Linked DNA regions of Homo sapiens: region 1 is linked to region 2. The links come from fine-mapping of genetic effects on gene expression. Tissue or cell type: aorta. Region 2 holds a variant in brackets; the other region holds the start of a gene. All regions are shown on one strand. Distances are from middle to middle.

The links. PIP is the estimated chance that this variant, and not a neighbour inherited with it, causes the effect.
Region 1: CHST1 starts here. The variant in region 2 is fine-mapped to the expression of CHST1 in aorta (GTEx, PIP 0.94).

The regions. Positions count from the first base shown.
Region 1 is chr11:45,664,617-45,667,296 of GRCh38, forward strand. CHST1 (carbohydrate sulfotransferase 1) reads right to left here and starts at 1,006. Exons shown (of 4, transcript NM_003654.6): 1 at 562-1,006.
Region 2 is chr11:45,751,983-45,754,662 of GRCh38, forward strand. No RefSeq gene overlaps it. Among named protein-coding and RNA genes, the nearest start is that of LINC02690, 1.7 kb to the left of the region's middle. The variant T/G (reference allele first, on the strand shown) is at 1,200.

The DNA of each region.
Region 1 (2,680 bases), 87 kb before region 2:
GGTTGTTCCGGCTTTCCGTGGTGGGCTCTGCACCATCCGGCGGCTCCGGCCCCACAGGGGCCCAGCTCATCGCAGCGGTCTGGGTGCGGAGGCCGGGCCAGGGCTGGGAGCAGGAAGCAGGGAGCGGCGCCCCCGCCTCCGGGTGCAGCTGGGTTTGGAAAGTTGGTGCGGGCGCGGGGACCTCAGGGTCTCAAGGCGCCTCCGCAGACCCGAGCCAGGCGGGTCGTGGGACGGTGAGCCCGGAGCAGCCCCTGAGTGCGCTCCGCAGCGGAGGGGAGCCAAGCGCCTCGGGGGCCACCGCGCGTCTCAAGTTTGCTGCCCTCCTCGAATGGGGGCAGGGAGGGCTGAGGTGATCGCGGCGCTCACCGGCCACCAGCCCCGGCAGCCCCTTCCTGCGCCCAACACGCCGCCGTTCCTCGCCGCCGCCACCCCTCCGCTCACCGCCGGTAGCTGCTGTCCCCGAGCGGAGGGGCGTCTCCCACCGCGCCCGCGCCCCTCCCGGCTGCTGCGGCGGAGTGTCCGCTCCCGCCCGCCCCGGAGCCCGCGGGGCCCGGCCAATACCTGGTCGGGGACGCGCCGGGAGCAGCTGCAGCGCCCAGCGCCGGCTCCATCCTCGGGTCTGGAGTCAGGGTCGCCGGGGACCCGCGGGTGGCGGCGGCGGCAGCAGCCGCGGCGGCATCCTCCGCCTCCCGCGCCCTCCTCCTCGGCCTCCCTCCTCCCTCCTCTTCCTCCGACTCCGCGCGCGCCTCACGGGCCCCTCTTCATGGCCCGGGGGCGCGAGCCCGGGGCGGCTCGAGCAGCTGAGTGCGTTCTCTCCGGCCGGACGCGGGACCCGGGGCCGGGGCTCAGGGACCCGAGAGATGCCGGGACAGGGGCCGGGACCCGGAGCGCCGCAGCCCCGGGCGCCGGAGGAGAGCAGCAGCCGCAGGCACCAGAGCCTCTCGGAGCGCCCGCCCGCGTCCCCGAGCCAAGAGCAGCGGCGGCAGCGGCGGCTACAGCTCCGAGCGAGCGGCAGGCGCTGCGGTCCCGGCTCCACCCCCGAGCCGCCCGCCCCTTCTCCTCCCCACCCCTTCGGCGCGCGCCTTCCCGCCCCCCGCGCCGCCCCAGCCGCGAGCGCCCTGGACACCCACTCCGCAGCCAGGCTCCGGAGCCCGCCCCCACCCACCCGCCGGGGGCAGCCACGCCCACCACCCGGACTTCGGGCGGCCGGCGGGCAAGGGCACCGGCTGTCTCTGGCACCTCTCCGCGTAGCCTCCCTTCCCCTTACCCCCGAGGGCGCTGCTGGCCGGGCCGCCAAAGCCTTTCGCCCCCCCAGCGCCCCTCGCCGCGGAAGTCCTGCTGGAGTCCCAGCCTGGCCCCTGGCCCAGCTGTCCTTTACCTCTTGCCCAGCCAGCGGCACAGAGGGACTTCAGAACCCAGAACTGAAGCCAACCATCTCTGTGTGCAATACCCTGACACACACCCCTAGCCTTTCCTCCTTCCCCGCCCCTCTGCTTCTCAAGTGTGGGGATGAATCATTTGTCCCCGCTGCAGTTGTCCCTCTTGGGCAGGGTCAGGGGGTGTCTTAATGGGACCTTAGAGTGGGTTTGCTGGCTGACCGTCTTCTAGGCCGCTCCTCCACACTGCCCACCTTCTTCCTACCAGACTGCCCCTGGCTTTCTAGGTGGCAATCTGGAGCCACCACTGCTTTTATGGATGAGGGATGGGGACAGAGCTGGCCAGCCGAGCACCTTGGGCCTGTATCCTCTGCACAAATATTGACTGAGCATCTTCCACAGGCCTGGCCTTCATGGGCACCAGGGACTGGTTGATGAACCTCTCAGAGTGGAGTGGAGGAGAAGCAGGGTGCATGAGCAGAGCAATATCATGTGATCAGTGGCCCCTGGGCTGGAGAGGACGGCCAGGAGTCCCAGCTCTGCCACCACATCTGACATGACTGAGGCTGCCCACCCCAGTGGCCTGTTTCCTCATCTGGAGACTAGGAAGGTGCTTTGTCTGGCTGAACCTCTGATGCTCCTCAGTTCTGACCAAATGGTTATTTCTGAAGCAGAGGAACAGTCAGCCTTCATCTCCACCTGGAATCTCTGATTCCCGACTATAGCTCTCCATCACTCCTGGACTGGGGCGCAGAGAGCAGTGGATGGCTTGAAAACTCCAGGCATTCTGGGAAAGCCTCGTCCCCGATGTATGGGCAAGCAGCTGCTGCCTCCATCCCACACAGTGAAGCACAGCAGAATGGTTAGCACAGCAGTTTCCTGGGTCAGAGGAACCTGCTGTGTGTTTGCTGGGTGACTTTGTGTGAGTGATCAGCCTCTCTGCGGCTCAGTTTCCTCATCCAGAAGACAGAGGTACTGATCCTCACCCTGTAGGGGTGTTGTGAACACTGGATGGTAATGTGTGTAGAGCATTCAGCAGTGTCTGGCAAGGGGGTGAGTACTTAATAATTGCACATTGTTGCGTTCAGGGTAGCCAGGAACAAACATTCACTCACTCGCCAAGAGGAGAACATGACAGCTGCACTTCCCTGGAGGACTGGGCTCTCGGGTCATCAAGAAGGTCTCCCTCTCTCCACCCAGAGCAGATGGTATGAAGGCCCTTGCCCCAAGGGTCCCACTAGACCAAATGGTCATTTATCTTGGTCACAATTGCAAACTCATAACTATAAACTCCTCTCCCCCAT
Region 2 (2,680 bases):
GAGACTTGCTGGAAGTCTTCCCTGACGACGGTTTGGCAGTGTTCATTAAAAATTTTAAGTGGATGTTCTCTGTGACCCAGCAATCCCATTTCTAAGACGCTGCCTGCAGAAATATTTGAATCTGAAGGTGATCTTTGCAGCATTATTTACAGCAGTAGATAATGGAAAACAACCTAAATGTCCCGTAATGGAGGCCAGTTACATCAATTTTGGTACATGCATACACGTTGAAAATGCAAAGGCGTACGGGCGGAAGAACACATAAGGAACCATTAGCAGCCATTACCCAGGAGTCGCAGGACTGACCAATAGGGTTAGAGAAGGGGGGCGTTTCACTTTACTTCTCAACCATTTGGAGATGTTACAAGAGTGCGCTTCCCTCCCGCCCCCAAGAGAGACGGGCTCTTGCTTTGTCACCCAAACTGGAGTGCAGTGGCACATCACGGCTCACTGCAGCCTTGACCTTCCAGGCTCAAGTAATCCTCCCCTCAGCCTCCTGAGTTCAGCCTCCTGAGTAGCTGGGACTATAGGTGTGTGCCACCTGCCCAGTTAATTTTTTGTATTTGTTTAGTTTTTTTGTTTTTGGGGGTTTTTTTTTCCTTTTTTTGAAATGAAGTATTACTCTGTCATCCAAGCTGGGGTGCAGTGGCACTATCTCGGCTCACTGCAACCCCCGCCTTTCGGGTTCAAGCAATTCTTGTGCCTCAGCCTCCTGAGTAGCTGGGATTACAGGTACCCGCCACCACGCCTGGCTAATTTTTGTATTTTTTAGTAGAGACAGGGTATCGCCATGTTGGCCAGGCTGGTCTTGAACTCCCAACCTCAGGTGATCCACCCGCCTGGGCCTCCCAAAGTGTTTTTGTATTTTTTGTAGAGACGGATTATCGCTATGTTGCCAGGGCTAGTCTTGAACTCCTAGCTTCAAGCGATCCTCCGCCTTGGCCTCCCGAAGTGCTGAGATTACAGGAGTGATCTACCGCGCCTGGTTTACTTTTATAACTTAAGGAAAATGCTAAATGTTTGGGATGATTGGTCATACAATGGGATTTATAGTGATGAAAATCAAGTACGTTAACTGGTTATGATACAATGCAAAAAAAAAAAAAAAAAAAAAACCAGCACAGGCCAGGCGCGGTGGCTCATACCTGTAATCCCGGCACTTTGGAAGGTCAAGGCGGGTGAATCACTTGAGGTCAGGA[T/G]TTCGAGACCAGCCTGGCCAACATGGTGAAAACCCGTCTCTACTAAAAATACAAAAATTAGCTGGGCATGGTGGCCAGTGCCTGTAATCCCAGCTACTCGGGAGGCTGAGGCAGGAGAATCTCTCACACTCAGGAGATGGAGGTTGCAGTGAGCCTTGATTGTGCCACTGTACTCCAGCCTAGATGACAGAGCAAGACTGTGTCTCAAAAAAAAAAAAAAAAAAAAGCACAAAGGCACTTACAATAGGAGCATCAAGGGAGAAGAGGAGAAGTAAGATGGGTGGGAAGAAGTTAGGTCTTGCAGGTTGCAGAAAATGTCATCATCAGGAGAAGGAGGAAAGGCATTTTAGCTGAAGAAATGGCAAAAGCAAAGGCTAGGAAGAGTAAAACTTCCAGTACTCTAGAAAATCCCAAGTGGTCTCTGTGGCAGAGGTGAAGAGATGTGACACAGACCTTACACAGGAGCAGCAGGAAGCCATCCCAAGTTTGAAAGTAGGGAAAGGACATGAGGAGAGCAGAACCTACAAAGATTTCTCCAGGCAGACGTGAAGGAGAAGTACTAGAGTCCAGGAGACACCTTAGGAAGCTACTGTAATCACACAGGAGTGACACGAGGAGGACCCCACAGGAGGGTGGACGGAGGGGAGAGGGAATTACAAGAAGTATTTCATATGTAAATGGCAGGAGTTTATGATGTTTCTCAATCCATAGACTTACTTTCTAGAGCTAGATGAGGTTCCTCAGCTTACAGATGGGGAAACCGAGGCACAGCTAGGGGAAGTGAGGGTTTCCAGGACAATAGGTTTATGACTTGAAGTTTTCTCTGGGCCTCCTGGGAGAGGAGGCTCAATCCTTCCAAGATCTGACCTTTTTTAACTCTTAATTCAGACAATTCCCAACTGAGGGGGATGGGCAAAGGTGAGGCTGTGGCCCAAGAAACCCCTGCAGGAAGAAAAGAGGGAGGAAGAGGACGACCCCCTTTGGTATCTGGATGCTGAGAGTCCCACTCTGAGATCCCAGCCTCCTTAAAGAGAGCACTCTTGGTCCCAGACTCGAGCATGGCTGTCCTGCAGGGAGCTTGGGGCAGTGCTCAGGCCCTGGGAGGGGTGTCTGGTGGTGGGCAAGGTGCCACCACGAGCTGGTCCAGGAAGTGCCTCTGTCACGTGCGTGCCTCCCCAGTGTCCTGTCCCACACCTGGCACCATGGCAGCACTGGGACAAGCACAGCGCTGGACTCAGGAGTCAAGAGCCCTGGAATCTACTGCCTTTCTGTCCTGCCACTCAGCAAGCTGGCCTTGAGCTTGCCACTAGCACTCCCATGTGATAAGGCCCATGAAGGCATGAACTCACACTGAGGAATGCTATGCTAAACACGGCCCTCTTCCTGGAGAGGAAAATGGAAAAGCCCCAGGCGGGGGAGTATTATCACAAAACTGTCAGCATGTCTACATTTATCAGATTAGTTAAAAGAAGAGACAGGGC